2 separate regions of the Homo sapiens genome follow, and region 2 is linked to region 1. The links come from fine-mapping of genetic effects on gene expression. A gene starts in region 1. The other region holds a variant in brackets. All regions are shown on one strand. Distances are from middle to middle.

Region 1 (12,307 bases):
TTAAGGTTTCATTCTACTTAATAAAATACAACACACAACAGAAACTCTATAAATGCAGTCAAATAACAGAAGACATTTTTAAAAAAAGGTAAAATTTAAGAGAATGGGTTTTTCAGGATTCACTAAGAGCCCATTAAGAAATTGTTTACATACCATATACATCTGACCTTCCCTACACTTGTGTTTTTTTTCTTTGCAATTGTTATATATCCTCAAGATACAACTTTGAAGAAAACCACCAAGAAACCTTCAGCACCCTCTCATACTTGGTAAGACAAGACTGTCTCCTCTTGCTCCCAGGCAGCTCCCAGGCAAGCATACACCAGTGCTTGTTTTATGCTTCAGTTGGATTTTTACATAAGTTTCAATGTAGCTTCAGAAGAAAAAAAAAAAAACTAAAAATAAATGAAGCTAAAAGTAGCAATCTCATCGGTTTTATAGAAGTCAGCTCAATACTGACAATCAGCATAAAACCGAGCTGAGCAGATTTAGAGGGGTCAATGTGTGACAGTCATGATTCATTTTATAAGAAGGCCCAAACTAATTTGAACATTAGTGTTGCTAAAATACAAAAATTCACTCTGCAGCTTCTGTGAAAACCTATTACATGATATTGGGTTCTCCCATCTTACAACTTTTTTATCTGTAAGATTCTTTCCAGAAGCACAACTCCCACATATAACGAACATTGACTATGGCCACATAATCTGTGTCACTCAATTTCCTCATCAGGAAAATGGTGATACAATACCAATCTCACGCCTCTCATAGATCCACACATACATGCACAAACACTCCCCTTTGGGATTGTTCTGAACATAAGTTGGCTCACACTCATATCTTTTCTCTGGGTGCTCATTATCGCTCTTTCTGCACAAGTATTTCCTTGCTTTCCAAGAACTATTTTCCTGATGCAACAGCCCCATCTCTCTATTAAGGAGCATGATGCAGTGCAAAGGCCCATACACCTGGAGCCTGGTGGTTATTTAACCAGTCTGAGTATCAGTTATCTTCTCTGTGAAGTAAGACCAATAGTACCCCTCATCAAGTAAGATGCATTTCAAGTATCACGTACATGGCAGGTCACCCCATCAAATCTGGCACCTGGACTGACTACAATGCATACAGAAAAACAGAATATCCCTAATGTGGTCTATCCACAGCCCTCCCTTGTAGATGGGAGTGTAGGGACTTACTTAATTTGCACCCCTAAGAGATGGTTATGCCTCTTACTAGAAGCTTACTATAACCATTGTAAAGAGATCAAAAGGCAGATAAAATCCCCTGAAATTCTCAGCATAAAATTAGTCCAGCTAAATGGAATCCAATTATTTAGCTTCTTCAATCTTACGGCCTTAATAGTTGATCCTTGGGTTAGCAGTCTGAGTCTTGCTGGGTTATCTTGTTACCAGGAATGCAATTCCTCTGCAACATTCTCCTGATTCCAGTGGCAAAAGGGAGAACCTTATTTGGGGGAGGCCAGAAAAGAACTAGTGTTTAGAGTGTTCTGGTATCAAGTGTGTATCCTCCAACCCAAACTGACAGTGATGGTGAGTGGTAGCCAGCAGTCTGCTGCATGTTTACTGTGGTCTGTTAAAGAAGTCCTTACTTTGTAAAAAGATGTTACGAAAATCATGGGAAAAAAAAAAAAGGCCTTTACCTTACCCCCTTAATTCCCACTTGTGAACATCAAACATCCCCATTTCAATCACTGAATTATTCTACCTCTCAGCAACAAAATGTCCTAAGTTGTTACACTGAATTCTTTTATAATTCAATTACTTATTGATGCCAGAACATGGAATTAAACTAATTAGGAGGCATGGCTTGAAAGTCATGCTCAATTTAACAGCAGATAAAGGGTTCACAGTGTTCTCAAGATTAAGAAACTGTTTTCTTTCTATGCTTACATTTTTGGGTTTTCTCTGACCCTTCAGCAGTGTTTTATGCTCAGCTGTGTACTAATGACCCAGACCATTACCAGTTCTTTAAGGTGTGATGGGAAATTGCAGGTTCATTTTTCCAGGATATTCCCAACTGAGCCATAATAAAGGAATTTAGGAAAACTGATGATCTCTTCAAATAGCTGCCTCAGGCAGAAGTAATTATCAATAAAGAGAACAGTGGAGACAGAGAGGGAGATGGTGAAGAATTATCCAATCAGAAGAGGGATGACAAGAAAACACTAAAAGTGAGTAAACCCCTTCATATGGATTTTAAACAATTGTTTCAAAAGATACAAGTCAGGCTGGGCACTAAAAAGAAAGCAACTCCATTACACTAATAGGTGCATAGTGCCTGGAACATAACAGTGCCCAATGAGTGGATGTGAGTGGATGAATGCAAGAAGGAATAAATGGAAGTCAACTCCCTGTCCTTCAGTGAATAACACACCCAATGGATATCATGAAGGATCTTAATCTTAAATGGTTTTCTCACAACATCCAGCCCATTTTTAGACTACTTTTTTTTTTTTTTTCTGAGACAGAGTTTCACTCTTGTTACCCAGGCTGCAGTGCAATGAATGGTGAGATCTTGGCTCACTGCAACCTCCGCCTCCCGGGTTCAAGTGATTCTCCTGCCTCAGCCTCCCGAGTAGCAAGGATCACAGGCGTGTGCCACCATGCCCAGCTAATTTTTGTATTTTTAGTAGAGATGGGGTTTCGCCATGTTGGCCAGGCTGGTCTTGAACTCCTGACCTCAGGTGATCTGCCCGCCTCGGCCTCCCAAAGTGCTGGGATTACAGGCATGAGCCACGCGCCAGGCCTAGACTACCTTCTTAAAGGTTAACCAATTTATGGTCAGAAAGCCAATTTTAATGGTAGCTACAATATAACATTAGAACGATAAATCTCATGCCCCAAACATGTACATAATGTATCTGAAAGCTAAGTGAAAACTGAGTCACTTTCTCATACATGGCAGTGTTTTTTCTTTTTTTTTTATTCAATAGAAGCCACATACAGGGACAGTAAGTTTCACCTATCATCAAAAAATAGTCAAAAGAACCTCTCTACACTGTAAGCTCCTAGAGGCCATGGGTAGCGGTGTCTCTGAAACCCTGACAAAGTCTGTAGGCAGCAGGGATTCAATAAATGTGGGCTAAATGACTAATAAAGCCCTCAAGAGCTTGTTTAAAAAAAAGTATCAGAAGGCCAGGCACCTGTGGCTCACGCCTGTAATCCCAGCACCTTGGGAGGCCGAGACGCGCGGATCACGAGGTCAGGAGATTGAGACCAGCCTGGCCAACATGGTGAAACCCCGTCTCTACTAAAAATACAAAAAATTAGCCAGTCATGGTGGCAGGCGCCTGTAGTGCCAGCTACTCGGGAGGCTGAGGCAGGAGAATGGTGTGAACCCAGGAGGTGGAGCTTGCAGTGAGCCGAGATCGCGCCACTGCACTCCAGCCTGGGGGACAGAACAAGACTCTGTCTCAAAAAAAAAAAAAAAAAAAAAAAAAGGCCGGGCGCAGTGGCTCACGCCTGTAATCCCAGCACTTTCGGAGGCCGAGGCGGGCGGACCACGAGGTCCGGAGATCGAGACCATCCTGGCTAACACGGTGAAACCCTGTCTCTACTAAAAAAAAAAATACAAAAAATTAGCCGGGCGTGGTGGTGGGCGCCTGTAGTCCCAGCTACTCGGGAGGCTGAGGCAGGAGAATGGCGTGAACCCGGGAGGCGGAGGTTGCAGTGACCCGAGATCGCGCCACTGCACTCCAGCCTAGGCGACAAAGCAAGACTCCGTCTTAAAAAATAAAAAATAAATAAAATAAAATAAATAAAATTCAGCCAGGCATGGTGGCACGCGCCTGTGATCCCAGCTACTCGGGAGGCGGAGGCTGCAGTGAGTCCAGATGGATCCACTGCACTCCAGCCAGGGCAACAAGAGAGACTCCACCTAAAAAAAAAAAAGTATCAGAAAAGCAATCAACTTGGAAATAGAATGCAGATAAAGTTGAGGTTGAGCACTGGATAAATGAAAAAGTTCAGTCAACAAACATTTACCTACTACCTACCAGGTGCCTGGAGTCATTACCAAACAGACCCTGCCCTCCTGCAACTTAAGACCTACAAATACCCGTGTAGAGTTAGAACCGGGGAGTGCTCTCGGGGGGGCCTAGGGCATAGTGCTTAGGAAGGACACAGAACAACGAGGGGGCGTCAGCACAGGCTTCTTTATAGGGTGAGATCTGAGGGGTGGGAGGCTGGGGGAGGGCCTGGGGGTGCGCACGCAGGGGCCCCCGGCTCCGGGAGCGGGACCGGCGGCAGAGGCCCCAGTGGGCCGCGCCGCTCTCTTAGTGTTTCTGGGGTCGCCTCACACTCCCGCCCGCTGCGACACCACTCCGGCCTCCGGGCGTGTCATTCCATCATTCAACTAACCCGGTCCCCATACGTGGGCCCAGGCGGGGTGCCCAGGCTCCGTGGTGGGGAGGAGACGCAAAGCGAACGCGGGTGGCCCCTGAGGGCGCCCTGTCCCTCCCGCGCGCGGGTAGTCACCTGAGCGGCTCAGCACCTCCCACTCGTGGGGCCTGCAGAAAATCGCGGCCAGGACCGAGAGCTCCTCCTGCACAGGCTCCGCCATGGCTGTGGGCCCCACCGCCTCAGCGCTTCCCCTTCCGCTGCCGCAGCCGCCGCCTCCACCGGCCAGGAGCAGCACTGCCCGCGGCCACCCGGGGGCGCCCCGCGCCTCCGCAACCGGGCGGGACGGGGGCGGGGCGAGACGGAGCTGGGGCGAAGCGAAACGGGACGTGGGCGAGGCGAGTCCGGGCGAGGGTCAGGGCAGACGGGGCGGGCGGGGCCCTTAGAAGTTCCGCCCAGAAGCTCCTGCTCAGTAACTACAGACGCGAAGCTCAGCCTCTCGGTTTGGGAATTTTCTTGGAGGCCGAGGCCCTGCGCCTCTGTCTGCACCCAAGGCGACCGCCCAGCTTACCCCCGGCTCTTCTGAGCACAGGGAGGCCTCCCAGCAAAGCCTGAACCCTCTAAGTTTAGCTGCAGGCTTCGAACCCCGACCGTCCCCGCCGAGCCTTGGGCTGCTGAGGTGGGGATGAACTGGGCGAAAGACACTTGGGAGTTAGGAAGAAACAAACAAGCAGGGAAGTGACCAGGAGACAAGGTGAGACTTTGCCCGGCTCAGGTCTGAACTGAGTGTTGGAGATAACCACAGTTAACAAAATAAACAAAATTATTCGCCCCCGTGGAGCTGTTAGCAACCCTGGTGCCTGGGAAGCCTGGAAGAGGCTCGGGTTAGTAACAACCTCCAGGATGCCCTCCGAACTGGTACTGGCGCCGGGACTCTAGACAAGGTCCAGATTCCCGGGCCCTTCCCCTTACGGGTGCAAAAAGGGAGGGTCAGGACCTGCCAGTCCTGGCTTCAGGATGTTGACTGGACGGACCTGGACTCATGGGAACTGTGCGCCAAAGTCCTGGGAGCAAAGTGTCATAACGCTCCTCGTTTGTCTCTTGCCTTCACAGGAGACAGCCCTGCTGCAAGCGGCCAGTGGGAATCCTTGGCCTTTGGGGGTATGATCCAAGAATGTAAACGCTAGCTTTTCAGTGTTTTCGATTTCGTGATATTCAATGCATACAATACAATGTGACTCTTGAAGCTTAATAATAAAATTATCATTCTTGAGCCCAGCACCTAAATTTTAAAATGTGAGCAATACCAATAGGGTAACAGAATAAGCAATCCATTCTGTTTTGACTATAGTGAACAAGATTACAAGACTTATCTGCAGTTAGGTCTGTCTCTCGGATGTTTGCCTGGTCTTTTTGCTGTTCAAATAACAGTTTAAAATTTGGCAGTCCCCACAAGCAGCTGGTCTTGCTCATGGAGTTCTCACAACTTTTGTTTGTATGAGAAATCACATTTCATGAGATAAATCTGGGAATTTAGGTTGTTAGGCAGTGACTCCAGTCACTGACCTACGGAAGTCAGAACAAAGTTGGCTGATTTTAAAACCCTGCATCCATTCACCATTACCATTCCCGCTGTTGGTAAAAAAGGAATCTGATAAAGGAAAAGATACTGGCTTCCCGGAACAGAAAGGAAACCTAACAAGATGGACTGCAGGGAAAATGCTTTTCAGAAGATGCCATGGGATTTCAGTGACCCCGAGTAATTAGGAGCACATAATTGGGAAGATGAAGGCTTATTTAAATGCAGTTATCTCTGATATGGCCAATTGGCTTGAAGAAAAAAAAAACTCCTTTATTTCCAAAATAACAGACGTTCCAGCAGTTCAGTAGGTTCATAATTAACTGCTAAAGAGATTGAACAAAAGAATACGTTTTTAATTTAAAATATTACTAAGTTATTTTAATTCGAAATCCAGTGTTACTATGAAAAGTCAAACAATTTGGTTTTTGACTTATTTATTGAAAATAATCTATAAAATAGGCTGGGCGCAGTGGCTCATGCCTGTAAGCCCAGCACTTTGGGAGGCCGAGGCGGGTGGATCACCTGAGGTCAGGAGTTCGGGACCAGCCTGACCAACATGGTGAAATGCTGTCTCTACTAAAAATACAAAATTTAGCTGGGCGTGGTGGCAAGCACCTATCATCCCAGCTACTCAGGAGGCTGAGGCAGGAGAATCGCTTGAACCCGGGAGGCGGAGGTTGCAGTGAGCCGAGATCGCACCTTTGCACCACTCCAGCCTAGGCAACCAAGCGAGACTCCGTCTCAAGAGCAAAAAAAAATCTATAAAATATTCAAATAGTTTTTACTTATTTTTAATTTTCCAAATTCACTATAAGTGAGATGAGTGAAATAACATGAAGAGCAAAATTACAGCTGTAGGAAGGATTAGGAGGCAGTTGCTAAAGCCTGCTGTCAGCAATAGGTCCATGAAAATTGATTAAAGAGTACATCAATCTATGATTTAAAATTTTCTTGTCAATAGGTTTCTTCTTTGCTCTTCCTTTCTCAGTTGATTTCTTAATCTGCTTTTCATACCTCATTTAGCATGTTTAAATAAAAAAGAAGTCAATGTGAATGTCTTTTAAATTGACACTATCCTAAGGCACTGAAGTCCCATGAATAAGTTTCTGCACTCTGACATTTGGAAATAATCATCTCAGAGACTGCATAATGTCAGCTTGATATTTCTTGCACTGTGAAAATATCAGCTACATGTCAAATCTCTAAAGTCTACCTTAATGTAATAAGTTTCCTCGTATTCACAGGCTACTGAAAATTCAAAATATTTAAATGTAGGATGAATGTCTACAGTTAGAGCATTGTCTACCTCCATCTCTCTCTCTCCCTTCTCACCCTTACACACACAAAGGTGTATGATTTGCTAGAACAATTATTATTTTTACAAGTATTATTTTTACAAGCAAATTTTCTAAATAGTTGCTTCCCCAAGACCATAAGGGGAAAAGGTTTAAAACCTTTCACCTTCAGTTAAAACCAATAACCCAGAAGATAGTTCTTTTCATTTTGGGGGGAAACAGTTCTACTCACTTTCTCATGAGTAGTATGTAGACTTACTCAACTCTGAGTTTGAAATCTTAAGTCAAAACTCACGTGAGCATAGAAATGAGAATGCACAATTTCAAGTGTATTAGGAGAGTTAAGTGTTATGTCAAAAAAAGGTGAGGATCCTAATACTGGAGTGGAGTGTGATAAGAAAAAATATCAAATCAAAACTGAGAAAGGTAAAAGTACTTTCATGAACCACCAAAACAACCAAAAGAGGGCTTAAATGCCAACTTCCTAAATAAATCTGAACTCCAAGAACCTGTGCTACTGGTTCTGTCTAAAGAGTTTCTGCATTCGCATACTCATTTCACAAAATGTTCTTAGACACTCACTGATTGTTGGCCGGGCTCTGCAGGCTGAGTGTGGAGAGGTGGAGAGTTAGAGATGAAAACAAGTCCATGTTTCCAGTGACTACAGCCTTTGGTCTAGACAAGTAAACACAATATGAAACAATTACAAATTCTTTCACCAAGCTGAGCATACAAGAATTATCACATTTCCTTAGCGGTGTAAAGTTCAATATTATGATGTAGGTTAAAGTAACAGAGTAGGAGTAGCATATACCTCCCACAATTTCCGAGGGGAGAAATAATTTGGAAATGCTCAGGAACACAGTAGCCCTCCAAAAGTACACAAAGTCTGGGATGTTAACTAGTCATAGTTGTTTTGTTTTGTTACAGTATACAGATCGTAAATTTATTTTTCATAATGATAAAAGCAAATAAAATCTATGAGAATTTGCCACTGGCTCTGTGATCATACCCTTGTGTGGAAAGATCTGCCTCCATCATGTCCAAGTAATCTGCACTCCCTCCAAAATATCGGCTGCACTCTGCCATGCTTGATTTCTATGCATGAATGGTATCAAGACAGTTCCAGCTTGCTTTATGGGAACCCATCCATATGGCCCAAATCCACCAATATAAAAGCTCAATGCCTTCTCAATGTTATAAAAACAAGTCACTGGTATCATTGGGGTTTTTGAGTTTTTCTAGTTAAAATAGTATCCAATATTTAATTTTGGTGACTATTATAAATGGATTCTTCTTATTCATTATATTTTCCCACTGTATTACTAGTGTAGCCAGTTTTTATTATCTAAAAGAGGGCTGAGGATTGTGTGACTTAAATATCCTTTTCTCCAAACTCATAAAGGGACTATCCATGAGTAAACTCTGCCATTTTAGCAAAAGTGATTGAAAATGGAAAGACAGATGTATATCAAGGAACCACAGGTAAAACTGGGAAAATTAGACTTGGATTTCCTTTTTAAAAATTATAGTGGAAGGAGGGAAGAAGGTAGGAAGGGAAAGAGAAAGAGAAAAAAAAAGAGGTAGGAGGAAGAGGGGAAGGGGGAAAAGGAGGAGAAATAGGGAAAGAAAAGATTGATTTTTATGAGGCAAAAGAAGTCATGAGTTAGGAATTTGTCTTTATGTAAGGAAAAAGTAAAAAAGATTGACTTGCCTGCTTCTTAAATAAAGAAGTCTGAAACTTGATTCAATAACAATATGAGGTCTGAAATTTGATTCAAAATAATATAGGAGGGAGGAAGAGGCTATAGTGTGAGTGGGGCAGAAGCTGATCATAGGTTAATGATTGGTGGGGTGGAGTGATGGGTACATGAAGATTCAGTATTTCATTCCCTCTACATTTGTGTATTTCATATTCTTTTTAATAAATGTTAATTTTTAAAATGTGTTCAGTAGATAATACATCAGGATATTTGAGTTTTGCCTAATGCTCAATTAAGGGAAAAAGGACAAAAATAAAGCAGGAAAATAGGGAAGAAAAAGGAAAACCGGGGCCAAATGGAGTGAATAGAGTTGGTGGATGATATTAAGAGACAGAAGATGACAGGTTCTAAAGTGATGTGTTTAACAGATGTATGATTTACGATTAGTTCAGGTGAAAAAAAGCACAGAGCCTAACAGTGCAGTGGCTTTAACAAGATACAATTGGTTTTCTCTTAAACGTTCAAGTGTGGAGGTAGGCAGAGCTTTGGTGCTCCCCGGTGTCAGGATATAAGTTCCATCTATTTTGTGGCTCTGCTCTGCACAGATTTGATTCCCATGGTCATGCTGTGGTTCAGGGTGGCTTTTGGAGCTCCGATCACGAGTCAGAAGAATGGGATTCAGTCCAATTTCATTGACTAGGACTCAGTCCCCATGACTGCTGCCAGTTAAAAGGGAGCTTGAAAATGTTGGTTTTAATCTGACAGGCCCTGTACTCATTAAGATGAGTTTGGGTCAGATGGATAGCTTGCAAATATTTTTTTTCCCATTCTGTAGGTTGCCTCTTCACTCTGCTGATTGCTTCCTTTGCTGTGCAGAGGCTTTTTAGTTTGATGTAATCCCATTTGTCTATTGTTTATGTTGCCTCTGCTTTTGAGGTCTTACCCAAAAAATCTTTGCCTAGACCAATGTCCTGATCCATTTCCCCTATGTTTGCTTCTAGTAGTTTCATAGTTTCTGGTCTTAAATTTAAGTCTTTAATCTATTTTGAATTGATTTTTGTATATGGTGACAGATAGGGATCTAGTTTGTCTCTACTAGAATTTAAAGTTCCAGTAAGCTTCCAGGGGCCTTATCATGCTTGTTCACCTCTGTATCTTCCATACCTTAAACAGTGCCTGGCAGATTAGGAATTCGATACATATTTATTGATACAAATAAACTCATCATAAAGTTCATAAATTCTTGATAAAATAACTTAGACTTAACAAGCACCTACTATATGCTAGTCATTTTGTAAAATTTCAGGTGTTTTTGTGAGTGAATGAGACATAGTCACTGCCCTCCAGGCACTTGGAATCTAATCCCAGAGGGGCACCAGCATTTCCTGGGATAAAGTGATGAAGGTCCTGCCAAAGAAGTAAAAAACCATTGGAGAAGGCCTAGGATGCCTGGTTTGGCCATTGTGATAGAGGTTCCCCATCATAGGGTAAGCGGGGGAAGAAGAAAGCTTAAGGAAATGTGGCTGGAAAGATAGATCTCTGCCTTTATTCTTCAACAAGCACTTATTGAGCACCTTACTATGTGCCAAGTATTGCACCAGGTCCCAGGGAAACTGGTTTGCAACAGGATCTCTTAGAAGTTGTAGTATAGTGGGAGAGACAGGTCTTAAAAGATCATACATGGCCGGGCGCGATGGCTCACGCCATCGAGTGATTGCTGTAATCCCAGCACTTTGGGAGGCCGAGACGGGAGGATCACGAGGTCAGGAGATCGAGACCATCCTGGCTAACACGGTGAAACCCCGTCTCTACTAAAAAAACAAAAACATTAGCCGGGCGTGGTGGTGGGCGCCTGTAGTCCCAGCTACTTGGGAGGCTGAGGCAGGAGAATGGCGTGAACCCGAGAGGCGGAGCTTGCAGTGTGCCTAGATCGCGCCACTGCACTCCAGCCTGGGGCGACAGAGCGAGACTCCGTCTCAAAAAAAAAAAAAAAAAAAAAATCATACATGTGGTCATCTGCAGCCTGTTGAAATCATGGGAGTAGATGATTGCCGGTCTGAATCTCAAGAATTTCACAATGACGGTGATGTACTTCCTGGCAATGAAACAAAGAAGCACTATTTTGCTCGTGTTTCTAACACAATCTGGATCAAAACAATAACCCCTTTGTGGGAGTGTTTCTGCATTTCCCTGTTGTTTTTCACTTTTTAACATTATTTCCTTCTGTTTTTAGTGGGGAAAAAAAGTCAATAGAAAAAATCTCCCTTGTAGCACAATTGCCACCTGCTAATACCACATTGGCTTTTGTTTCTGTCTGTCTGACTGCCCCTCTCTCTCTCTCTCTCTCTACGTCTCTCTGTGTGTGTTTCTATCTCTCTGCCTTAGTGATATAAAAGCTATCTAAGAATAAAAGGCTAGGCTATAATACTTTGTCATTTGTTGTTTTAGGTAAAATCCTTGTCTATTTACGTGATTCTCATTGCTGTTCAAAACATTAATTAGCCAGACATTTTTTCACTGATAGCTTCATTAGTTTCAAAATGAACATTATACTTCCAGATGAAACACAGCCAGAGCTTCTACTCTTGGGATCATATTACCACATACTTTGTCATTACCTCTTTCCCCTTTTTCCTAAGATAATTCCTTACTTCTCCCTCTGGTGAACTCTTATTCATTCTTCAGGTCTGAATTCCACTCATCCTATACTTCCCCATCACTTATCGTAGGGAACTGTATTTGCTTATATGTCTATAATCCCAGTAGATTATGATTTTCATGAGATGAGGGTGCATTTCTATGTCATCTTTGGTTGTATCTCCAACTTTTAGCACAGGGCCTGGCATATAAAAGGCATTCAATATTTGTGGAATGAGTCAAGAATGAATTAATGCATGGTTATAGTGTATAAGTAAATAGGTTATGGTTCACTTTTCTTATTACCTCCACTCTGATTTCTACCAGATTTTATCATACCTTGAACATGTTGACACACATCAGTGTTAAGCAGGCAGATTAATACTGATGTCTTTACTTGATTCACATTGAGAGTAGTGAAGAAAATACAAATGGGCAAATGCAACAATGGATTAATCCTAACGAAGCCCCACAGCTTCATACGGGGAGCTGAAAAGAGGAGTGCATGTCACCTTTACAGTAACTTTTCACATTTGACTAACAGTTGCTCACAGTTACCACTTCACTTGATTGTATTATGCGCAAATAAAAATGGCTTTTAAAGTAATTTAAAGCTACTATGCAATATAAAGTTTTGACATTACTGGGTTGAGTCTGGAAGTCATGTGGTAGGTAAATCTATATAGTGTTTATGTCCCAAACTGTAATGAGATACCCCATGGTACCTGATCC
Region 2 (12,307 bases), 45 kb after region 1:
AATTTCTTCCTTTCTCAGGTAAGAATAATCATTAAACTCAAGTGCTTAAAGAATAAAGGCAATAATAGATAAATATATAATTCTATATTTGGATTGCAAGAATTAAAGTAAAAGCAAAACACATACACACACAACCAGAGTCGCCAGTCATTTATCTTCATATAATCAGACAATAATTTTGATGATAGAATACTTGGATTAAATTACCTTTTTTTTTCTGTGCTTTAAGATAGAAATTCAAAGCACTAAAATGCCAACTAAGTAAGCACGGGTATGAATTGTGAGTAAAATATGAATACTGATATTTTTGTAATAGTTTGGGTCTCATCAAGAAGAGGCCTATTTCAGGAGCATAATAAATACATATTGCATAAGACTTTGGTACTGATGGTGCTGGGTTCAGAACTCAGGGAAGATTTTGCAAACAGAAAATATTTTTCACAGAAAAAGTGCAAGGAAAGCAGATAGGGATAAACAGTGTTAAAACTTTCTTTCTTAATGATTCCTCCGATTAGCCTAAATAGTCCTCTATCAACATGCATTTTTAGAAGAAGAAACTCATCTCTTAAGGAGGTCTATAATCTGTCTTAAGCCTTATTATAAAATAAAAAAGCAATAATTTGATAAAATGCTAAAATAGAAATGACAGTGATATTTGAAAAAATCTTAAAATGTGGGAAGTATTCTCCATGACTAAACTAATTAAATATTCCCAAAGTGGTAAAATATTTCATCATTAATAGGTGATTGCATGTCTGAAATGAAAAATGTTGTTACTTCTGAATAGCCTGAGAAAAAGAACATGCCAACAATTTAGAAATTAAACCCTACACAAGTGTTGACAGCCATAGTAAGAAAAGAGTGCATACAACAAATGTTAAGAGCTATTTACAGATTTAAAAGCAGTTCCCATTCTTGCAGCAAAATTGGTGACATAAAACCATTTGTACCAGATTATCATAGTCATCTTTCACAGAGAAAAAATACCAATGCAGTTAAGAGATTTCTCAAAAGATTCACCATTATATTGATCATTTTTATTTAAACCTTTAAGATTTTTATCCATGCTTGTAAATAAGGCAAAAGAAAGGCAGAAAAGACATCTTGGGATGAAAACTAAATTTTAATTTTAGTTTCTCTCTTTTTTTTTTTTTTGAGACAGAGTCTTGCTCTGTCGCCCAGGCTGGAGTGCAGTGGCACAATATCAGCTCACTGCAACCTCCGTCTCTCGGGTTCAAGCGATTCTCCTGCCTCAGCCTCCCGAGTAGCTGGGATTACAGGCGCCAACCACCACGCCCAGCTACTTTTTTTTGTATTTTTAGTAGAGATGAGGTTTCACCATGTTGGCCAAGCTAGTCTCGAACTCCTGACCTCAGTGATCGACCCACCTTGGCCTCCCAAAGTGCTGGGATTACAGGCATGAGCCACCGTGCCCGGCCTTCTCTTTTCTAAGGTTTAAAAAAAATGACACTGAAATCCTGAATAACAATTATAATTAAGAAAGGTACACAAGAACATGCCAAGAATTCATCCTATCAGCAGATATGCTGGGTAGTAATGAAGTTTGCTTATCGGTAGCACTCTTTTAATCAAGTTTTCCATTCTGAAGACTATTTTTGGCTTTCTCTTGTCTGATGTGAGAGATGACTTTGATGCAACCTTTTGAAATTTTGATCATCCACATGACATTCATCACATCCAAAACAACACAACTAATGACCCAGGATAACTGGATTAAAACTCCAAGCCTTATGTAGGGTTCTGTTCCATACACGGAATACATGAAGCCATAATGAGGAAGCATTGAGGCAATCCGCACGATGAAGAATACTACTGTCATGAGTATTCCATTGATAACGATAGCTTTAGAAAACTTGGGATACTTCAGAGCTTCAAAGAACCACCTGAAAAATGAATTAAAGAAACATCACATTTATAGTGCATCTCTGAGGATTAACCATTTTTATTTTAGTTTTTAAATTTTAAAATTCAGTGAAGGAGGAGCAAAGGGCCTAGAATAGCATACGCAATGCTGAAAAAGAACAAAGTTGGAGGACTCACACTACCCATTTCCAAGACTTAACTATAAAGCGACAGTAATCAAGTCAGCATGGTGTTAGTGAAAGATCAATAAACCAATGGAAGAGAAAAGAGAGCTCAGAAATAGACCCACACAAATATACTCAACTGATTTGTGACAAAAGCATAAAGGTAATTCAGTGGAGAAAAAAAGTCTTTTCAACAAGGTGTGCAAAATTGTATATCAACATCGAGAAAAATGAAGTTAAGCAGAGATCTCACACCTTACACAAAAATTAACTCAAAATGGATCATAGACCTAAATGTAAAATGCAAAACTATAAAACTTCCATAAGAAAAAAGGAAAAAAACCTGTATGATCTTGCATCTGGTGGTGCTATTTTAGATACAACACCAAAAGTGTCATCCATGGAAGAAAAAGTTAGTTAAGTTGGACTTCGTTAAAATTAAAACTTGCTCTGCGAAAGACACTGTTAAAGAAAAGACAACCACACACTAGGAAAAAATATTTAAAATATACATGTATGGTAAAGTACATGTATACAAAGTACACAAAGAATTCTTAAAAGTCAACAATAAGAAAACAACCCAATTAAAACACTGGTAAAAGAGCATAACAAAAACCTCATCAGAAAATATATATAGATGAAAACTAAGCATATAAAAAGATGTTCACTATTGTCATTAGGAAGTGCAAATTGCAGTGGCTCACGCCTGTAATCCCAGCACTTTGGGAGGCTGAGGCAGGTGGATCACCTGAGGTCAGGGGTTTGAAACCAGCCTGGCCAGCCAGGCGCAGTGGCTCACCCCTGTAATCCCAGCACTTTGGGAGGCTGAGGAGCGTGGATCATCAGGTCAGGAGTTCAAGACCAGCCTGGCCAAGATAGTGAAACCCCGTCTCTACTAAAAATACAAAAATTAGCCAGGCATGGCGGCGGGCACCTGTAATCCCAGCTACTCAGAGGCTGAGGCAGAGAATTGCTTGAACCCAGGAGGCAGAGGTTGCAATGAGCCGAGATCACACCACCACACTCCAGCCTGGGCGACAGAGCAAGATTCCATCTCAAAAAAGAAAAGAAAAGAAAAGAAAAGAAACCAATGTGGCCAAAATGGCGAAACCCCATCTCTACTAAAAATACAAAATTATCTGGGTGTGGTGGCGCATTCTTGTAATCCCAGCTACTTGGGAGGCTGAGGCAGGAGAATCTCTTGAACCTGGGAGGCAGAGGTTGCAGTGAGCCGAAATCGTGCTATTGCACTCCAGCCTAGGCAACAAGAGTGAGACTCTGTCTCAAAAAAAAAGAAAAAAAAAAAAAAGAAAGTGCAAATTTTAGCAACAAGATACTATGCACACCTATTAAAATAGCTAAAATCCCAAAAAATGGACAATAACAATTGCTGGCAAGGGTGTGGAACAAGAGGAACACACATTCATTGCTGCTAGGAATGCAAAATGGTACAACCACTTTAGAAGACAGTTTAGCAGGCATAAAACTAAACATATTCATAGCACACAAACCAGCAATCACATTCCTAGGTATTTTTCCAACTGATTAAAAAATGTATGTCCACACAAAAGCTGCATACGTGTTTACACCAGCTTTATTCATAACTGCCAACAACTACAAGCCATCAAGATGGACAAACATTGTAGTACATCCATACATTGGAATACTACTTAGCAATAAAAATAAACTATCAATGTAACAGCAAGAATGAATCTAAAGTGCTAAGTAAATGAAATCAGTCTGAAAATCCTGTACACTGTATGATTCCATTTATAGACATTCTAGAAAAAGCAAAAGTATCAAGACAGAAAACAGAATAGTGGTTACCAGAGTTTCGGAAAGAGTGGAAGGGGATTGAGTAGGTAAAACAAGGGATATTTTAGGGTGGTGAAACTGTTCTGCATAATACTATAGTGGTGGATACATGACATTATGCACTTATCAAAACCCACAGAAGTGCACAAAAAGTGAACCTGATGTATGCAAAATTTTAAACAATCAATTAGGAGGTTGGGGGATACCAGGATGCAATGCAAACAGTGACAAAAGAATCTTAACTGTTACAAATGCATGATATAACATCCCTGAAAGGAGTAAGGTAGAAAGAGGTGCTGACCTAAGTGACTTCAAAGATGGAGACTATAAGACAAAGGCAAAAGAAACTGTATACAGGCAATGTACTCTAGTTCACGCAAAAACAATTAACAATTCTGAAACCATTATACATGTATATCAGGACTGAACAAATAAATGGATTTGTTTGATGAAAAATAGTGGGAACCAGGTTTCTCATTGTTGGATAGAAAGGTTTCAGACAAGCAAGAGGCGGCTAGATTTTTTCCATGAGATACTGGATTAGATTTGGAAACAGTGAACTATTTTAGCTTGATATAGCTATAAATGCATACATACAGAAATAATTATAGATAGGTGTATACACACAGGTCAGCATATTTCCAGGTTCTGTCAGCTAGGAGCCCATAGAAACAATGATGCCTCAGTAACAATGAGCATACATGGCATCCAC[G/A]TGTTGGCTTCTAATACCACTCTCCAATGAAAGAAACTAGGGTTCCTTGAGAAATACCTGATTTGAGGGCTGGGAACAGAGAATACACAATATACAATATGAACCTGTTAGAGTATCATTTAGGGCCAGAGAGCAAGAAAGTGCTCAAAAAACAAAATGACGTTTCTTTATGTCAAAGGAACACAGAAACCAACCAAATGAGCTCTCCAGGTCCAAAACTCACAATGTGAGCAACAAAATAAATAATGTTGTATTGGATTATAACCTAAAGTATAAAATAAATATCCAGAAATCAATACTGATATAAATGAATGAATGAATGAATAGGGGAGAAGAAACAAATCTGTTCCGAATAACTGCAAATAATTTATGTAGAAATCACACCTTCAACAAGGTAAAGCATAAACCCCTAGTCCTCAAGTGTGGGCTGTGTATAGTGTAATGTATTGAACTGTTTCCCACTAAATTCTTTTTTTTTTTTTTTTTTTTCTGAGACGGAGTCTCGCTCTGTCGCCCAGGCTGGAGTACAGTGGCGCGATCTTGGCTCACTGCAAGCTCCGCCTCCCGGGATCACGCCATTCTCCTGCCTCAGCCTCCCGAGTAGCTGGGACTACAGGCGCCCGCCACCATGCCCGGCTAATTTTTTGTATTTTGTAGTAGAGACGGGGTTTCACCGTGTTAGCCAGGATGGTCTTGATCTCCTGACCTTGTGATCCACCCGCCTCGGCCTCCCAAAGTGCTGGGATTACAGGCGTGAGCTACCGCGCCCGGCTAAATTCTTATGTTGAAGCCCTAAAGCCCCAAAGTGACTGTATTTCAAGATAGGTCCTTTAAGAAGGCAATTAAGGTTAAATAAAGTAACAAGGGTCAGGCTCCAATCCAATAGGACCAGTGCCCTTAAAAGAAAGGAGAGACCAAAGTTCTCCCTCTTCCTCCATGCACACACGGAGAAGAGGCCATGTGAGGACACAGAGAGAAGTTGCCTCCTGCAAGAAGAGGAGAGGCGCCTCACCAAGAACCAACCCTGCAGGCACCTTGGTCTTGGACATCCGGCTTCCAGCACTGTGCAAAAACACATTTCTGTTATTTAAGCCACCCAGACTGTGGCATTTTTTATGGCAGTCCCCAACAAACTAATACACACAGTGACTTCCTTCCAAAGTGTACAGTATGGAAGGGGCAGGGGGAGGGCAGGTGTAAGGAATAACTTTAAAATGGAGAAACCGGACAAACAGTACCTCAGGTGAACAAGCTTAACATCAACAATGATTAAGTCATGTTCACAGCATGCAGTCCTAATATGTGTGATGAGAATGATACTGTCCCTCGGTGGTCTTCCTCCCCAAACCCCATATCCCCAGTGTAATCATGAGAAAAACATCAGACAAACCCAAATTGAGGGACAGTCTACAAAACACCTGATCAGTACTCCTCAAAACCGTCAAGGTCACCAGAGACAGGACATCTGAGAAACGATCACAGCCAACAGTAGCCTAAGCAGACATGAAACTAAATGTAGTGTGGCATTCTGGAAGGGATCCTGAGACAGAAAAGGGGCACTGGGCAAAAACGAAAGAAATCCACACAAAGTATGGACTTTAGTTAACAATAAGATATTAACACTGGCTCGCTAATTGTTAACAACTGCACCCACTGATCTATGACGCTAACAATAGGGGAAGCTGGGTGTGGGGTACACAGGGACCCTCTGTATCAGCCTTCTGATTTTTCTGTAAATGTAAAACTATTCTAAAGATAAAAAGGTTTTTAAAAAGTCAGTGAACATTCGCTCTATTCCACTTTTTCTTCCTTAAAAAAACTGCCTTGCCTAATTTTACATCATTTTAGAGATCAAATTGCAAAGGCAGTAAAACATATCTGTGTATCTTAATATTCAATTTAACTGAATTAGTCATGATTAAGCTAAAATTGTTCAACATAAGAAACTAAAAATTAATAGTTAAAAAGCTTGAAAATATTTTATTGAGTGATTAAAATATCAAATAATTTATATAGGATGAGAGATGTATTACATTTTATAAGTTTATGTAGGATAAAAGGGCTAAATTATCTAAGACAATTAAGAAAGACTATTTAGATAGCAATGGCTAAATTAATGAAATAATACTGCAAATAGGAAAAACATCACTAAAGCAATGACATCCACATTCTAATCCAGGTCTCTGATCCTCAAGCCTTCTCTTCTCCAAAGACTTCCCTTCTCCTTCAGCCATTCATTTCTTTGACTACATGGCAGCCTTGGAATTACTCAAGAAATATTATACCTCAGTGAACCCATTCCTCTCTAATCATAAGCCTTCCATATTTCTCTTTACCCAATCTCACCTAAACTACTTCTTTGACCTTCAAATCCTCAAATCTCTCTCTATCAGCCTCCACGCTTTCACTTCCTTTCCTACCTAATCCAAACTCCAAGTTAACTTCAGAACACACATCAGCACCCTCCGTTCTCTTGCCACTTCATCTATCTCACCCACTCTGCTGATCTCCAGTGTTTCATCAAGCCAGCTTTCCTTAGGCAATACAGAATGACGTGAAGAGTAGCTAGGGTGCTCTGCAGTCAGGCCGCCTGGGTTGAAAGCCTGGTTCTGCCATGGAGCAACTGTGTGGTCTTAGCTCTCTCTGCTATTCACCTCTATGTTTGTTCTATCTCTATAAATGGGGATAAATGATAGTACCTCCTTTGTACTATGAAGCTGCCATGACACAGAGTAACAACTCCCCCATACTGTAAATTCAATAAATATCATTACCCACCAATCTTTATTAAGATAAATGGCACAAATATAATTTTAAAAGATTTGAACTTCAGCAGAATTCTCAAACTGGCTCGACAGTCCTTTCATTTCACTCCATAGTTCCCATATAATTGCTTCCAAACCTGTCCTGCCATTCAAGTCAATTCCCTTCCTCATTCACTTTTGTCTCTCAATCCCATCAGAGCATCTGGTTTCTTACTGATATACAGTTAATTCTTGAGCAACACCAGGGTTAGGGGTGCTGACTCCCCACACAGTTGAAAATTGCTTGACTTCTGACTTGCCCAAACACCTGATTGTTGACCAGAAGCCTTACCAATAACATAAAGTCAATTAACATTATTTTATGTTATTTGCATTATATACTATATTCTTATAATAAAGCTAGAGAAAAACGTTATTTTCTAGAGAAAAGAAAATCATAAAGAAAAGAAAATATATGTACTATTAAGTGAAAGTGGATCTTTGTAAAGGTCTTCATTCTCGTCGTCTTCACGTTAACTAGCCTTGAGTAAGAGAAGGAGTTGGACTTGCTGTCGCAAAGGTGGCAGAGGTGGAAGAGGTGACGAAGTTGGAAGGAAAGGCAGGCACACTTAGTGCAAATTTTATTGAAAAAAATAGATGTGTCAGTGGACTCATACAGTTCAAACCCATGTTGTTCGGGAGTCAACTGCATTAGAGTCCATCAACCATGAATTCCTTCCACTCTGACCCCAAGATCTCAAAACTTCTTCTCAGGCACCTTTACCTTTCAACTCAGAGGAGAGTCCTCATCTTCTAGGATTTATTCAATAAACTACCCTGCCTTCCCTTGTTCTACCAAGTTCCCCTTCTATAAATTGATTCTTCTTTTACCAACGTGCTCAATTCCTGCTAATCCAAAAACCTCCCCTCCACTGCTTCTCTTCTTTGCCAGTTTTTTGAAAGGAGAGTCAGACATATTCACAGACATTCTTACTACACTCCCAAACCCAAGACGATATGACTGCAACTCTACAAAAGAAATTAGTCAGTTACATATGTGCACATGTACCCTAAAACTTAAAGTATAATTTAAAAAAAAAGAAAAAAAAAAAGAAATTGGTCACCCATAGCTTCCTCATAACCATAGTGTTAGCTTCTGCCAATTTTTCCATCTAACCAGTGCCTGGTCTTTAAACCAGTTTCTTTCAAAGGAAAGAACCCAAATATTAACTCAAGGTGAAATAATATTTACATAACTGTCCTCCTTACCTCCCTCTTCCATGGCAGAAAGATCACTTATTTTGTTGGAATCCACCTCTTCTTACCTAATTAGAACATTCTTTCATTCTAGCAAATAAAGACTAACAGTTTGTGAAGGTATGTACTGAATCTGAGAGGAAAGAGGGGAAGGGAGGAAAACATGCATGTGGGAAGGAAGGAAAGAAGAACAGCAACACTTTCTTTTACCCACCATTTACTGTTATTACTAAGACAGGCATAAAAGACAGCAAATTGTATGTATTTATTAATACAATCCTCCCTTCACTCCAGAGAGAAAATCCTAACTTTGGTCATTTAGCAATTATTCCTCCTCCTACCCTTCTAAAGGAACTTGAACCTTCCCATTAAGTTTACTGGGAGTTAATTGTGTAGAGGTATCGTACTCACTAAAAATTGTGTAAAAACTAGAAAAAGTGTAAAAACTAGGAATTATTTGCTCTAATTCACATTTACATTTGGAAAGAGGATGGAGGGCTATTTGCAGGCACAGAAAAAAAAAAAGTGAGAAAAGAGGACAGGGACAAATAATTGATCCTTGATGGCACTGGTTTGTTGAGTTTTAGAGGAGTTGAGAGTCAGAAGTTTGAGAGAGCCTTAGGAAAGCTGTGGGGTCAAGATATTGTGAGTCCAAGAGGAATGAAGAGAATTTTAAGAAGTGCTGTTGTGAGTAACAAACTGGATCTTTGTTGACATCCTTGGAAAAACTCCAATAAGGATTTGGATGCTGTACTGTTTCTGGAACTCTGTGAAGGGACTGGGCTGTAAGCTGACTCTACTTACATCTTAGTTGCAAATGTAATTTCTTCAGGCATGTAAACATTTGTATTTAATAAACATTAACCCTGGAAGGTTAGGAATTTAAGAACTGAATTTTAGACAAGTTTCCCTCCAGCTTCATATTATTTTGGTTCCCCTACTACTCCTAAATTATTCCTTCATTATATCTACTCTTCTTTCTCTGATTCTCCAATCTTGTTTTTTTGTTTTTTTTGTTTTTGTTTTTTATGTTGTTGTTTTTTGAGACAGTCTTGCTCTGTCGCCAGGCTGGAGTGCAGTGGTGCGATCTCGGCTCACTGCAATCTCCGCCTCCCAGATTCAAGCGATTCTCCTGCCTCAGCCTCCTGAGTAGCCGGGACTACGCGCCACCACACCCAGCTAATTCTTTTTTGTACTTTTAGTAGAGACGGGGTTTCACCATGTTGGCCAGAATGGTCTCGATCTCCTCCTGACCTTGTGATCTGCTCGCCTCGGCCTCCCAAAATGCTGGGATTACAGGCGTGAGCCACCACACCTGGCTGATTTTCCAGTCTTAAACATTTAACTCTAATCTTCTAAATATATCTTTTCTCACAGGTTAAAATATCACCTTATTCTGATCATCCCAACATTCCTCTCTCGAGCTCTCACTAAATTTCCACTCAGATGCTCTGTTTGTCCTCTTATCCAATATCTCCGCACTAAATTCGTCACCTTCCCTCTCAGTCTTCCTAATTCTCTGTCACTTTTGATGGGCACATTTCTCTGGGTCCAATATAGGATTTGTCTTAAACTTGTCCGTATTCTCTAATTTTTTATCCGTTCATTGCCAATTTCATTTCATTTCTTCAAAATCTCTATTTTGTCATCTCTCTAGTCCCACAGCTTAATATGGACTCTTATTTACTTTCGGAACTAATAAAATTACACTGTCCATTCACACAACTAAGAACTGGGTAACCTAACCCAAACTTTTGTCTCCAGTGTTACAATCTATCCTACAAATATCAAAAGTTATAACCACTCAGTGCTCTTTCCAGAATGTCTTTCTCCACTATAATCTCACTGTCTACTGGGTCAAGTTCAATCAGCTCTCCCAGACACTCAACATCCTCTACATCTATCCACCCTACCCCTAAGACATACTCTTTGATCCTATACTTTCTCTTTCCCATAGCATGTTTATTTCACTTTTCAAAATCCTATGTTGATTCTTTTCTTCTTGAATGAAGGCCCTTCCCTCTCCATCCACTTCTTAAAAAAAAAAGTCCTAAAACATTTTAAGAGTGTATGCCACGTTCTCTGTGAAGCCTTACGTGACAAGTATCAATCAATGATAGGTCTTAAAATGTGGTTTATGGACCCCTGAGTCCTTTTTGGGAGGTCTTCAAGATATAATTATTTTAATAATAGTATTAAAACATTATTTGCCTTTTTCATTGTGCTGACTTCTATACTGATAGTGTAAAGTGCTAGTAAATAAAACTGTTGGCATCTTAGCACAAATAAAGAAATGGTATTAGTAGCCACTGTATCCTTTCCCACCACATGCTTGCTTGCAGTTAAAAACAAAACCAGAAAAAAGAAAAGTTTCAGTTAGAAATGCCCTTAATGAAGCAGTAAGAATTATTTATTATTTTTATTAGATGACTTCTGAGTATGTGTCTTTTTAATATTCTGTATGATAAAATGGGAAGTACACATAAGGCATTTCTGCTACAAAGTAAAATGGTTTTCTTGAGGAAAAACCCTCAACTGATGGTTTAAATTGTAAGCTAAACTACCAGGTTCTTCCACAGACTGCCATTTTTACTTGAAAAAAAAAACAAAAAACAATAAACTATGATTGCTTGAGCCATCTGGCAGGCACTCTCTCAAAAATAAAAAAAAAAAGTGGGCTTGTCACATAAAGAAAAGCAACTGACAGTTTTGATACCAACAACAAAATCTGAACTTTCAAATGAAAATCAGAATATTGGAAAATTTGTTATCTGCAACTGTGAGCTTGACAGCCTCTCAATACTTAAAGACTTTTCTAATGAGATCTGCGGTGATATTTTAAATGTCATCTAATAAATGTTCAACATTTAGAAGACCTACATAACTCAGTGAGCCAATATTTTCCCAATGACCAAGACATGATGAATCAAAATTATGCATATGTAAAAGATTGAAGGCCTGCCAGGTGCGGTGGCTCACACCTGTAATCCCAGCACTTGGGGAGGCCGAGGCGGGTGGATCACGAGGTCAGGAGTTCAAGACCAGCCTGGCCAACATAGTGAAACCCAGTCTGTACTAAACATACAAAAAATTAGCCGGGCGTGGTGGCATAGTAATCCCAGCTACTCAGGGAGTAGTAGTAATCCCAGCTACTCAGGGAGGCTGAGGCAGGAGAATTGCTTGAACCTGGGAGGTGGAGGTTGCAGTGAGCCAAGATCGCACCACGGCACTCCAGCCCAGGTGACAATGCGAGACTCCATCTCAAAAAAAAAAATAAATAAATAAATAAATAAATAATTAAACAAATTTAAAACAGGTTAAAGCCCAAGAAAGGCCAATGAATTTGAATATAACAGAGTATGAAAAGTTCATTGATATGGTTTCAGATTTCACATTTACTTACCCTTTAAGAAACTACCTCTTGGTATATTTTGATGACATATTAAGGAATATCCACAATTATTAGTATTTGAAAAGGCCACTAAAATACTTTTTTTCTATTGCATAATTAACTCTGAGAGGCTAGATATTTTTCATATGCTTCAAACACTACTTATCACAACAGACTGAAAACAGAAGCCCATCTGAGAATCCAGCTGAATTCTATCATTCCAGATATTAAAGAGATTTGCAAAAATGTAAAACAATGACACTGTTCCTACTGTTTTTTTTTTTGGTTTGTTTTGGCAATGCAGTTATTTTTCATACACACACAAATATTGTGTTAACAT

Evidence for each region. PIP is the estimated chance that this variant, and not a neighbour inherited with it, causes the effect.
Region 2: its variant is fine-mapped to the expression of RWDD3-DT in whole blood (TOPMed, PIP above 0.99).

What each region holds. Positions count from the first base shown.
Region 1 is chr1:95,226,505-95,238,811 of GRCh38, reverse strand. RWDD3-DT (RWDD3 divergent transcript) reads left to right here and starts at 4,830. Exons shown (of 4, transcript NR_125949.1): 1 at 4,830-5,112. TLCD4-RWDD3 (TLCD4-RWDD3 readthrough) reads right to left here. Exons shown (of 8, transcript NM_001199691.1): 7 at 7,818-7,910. It overlaps RWDD3 (RWD domain containing 3), which reads right to left and starts at 4,602. Exons shown (of 4, transcript NM_015485.5): 1 at 4,497-4,602. The coding sequence starts at 4,581. RefSeq lists silencers at 4,142-4,321, 4,532-4,861.
Region 2 is chr1:95,181,147-95,193,453 of GRCh38, reverse strand. TLCD4 (TLC domain containing 4) reads right to left here. Exons shown (of 7, transcript NM_152487.3): 7 at 1-1,904. The coding sequence ends at 1,586. All of the region lies in intron 6 of TLCD4-RWDD3 (TLCD4-RWDD3 readthrough), which reads right to left. The region is part of intron 3 of RWDD3-DT (RWDD3 divergent transcript); the gene reads left to right. Among named protein-coding and RNA genes, the nearest start is that of RWDD3-DT, 47 kb to the left of the region's middle. The variant G/A (reference allele first, on the strand shown) is at 4,576.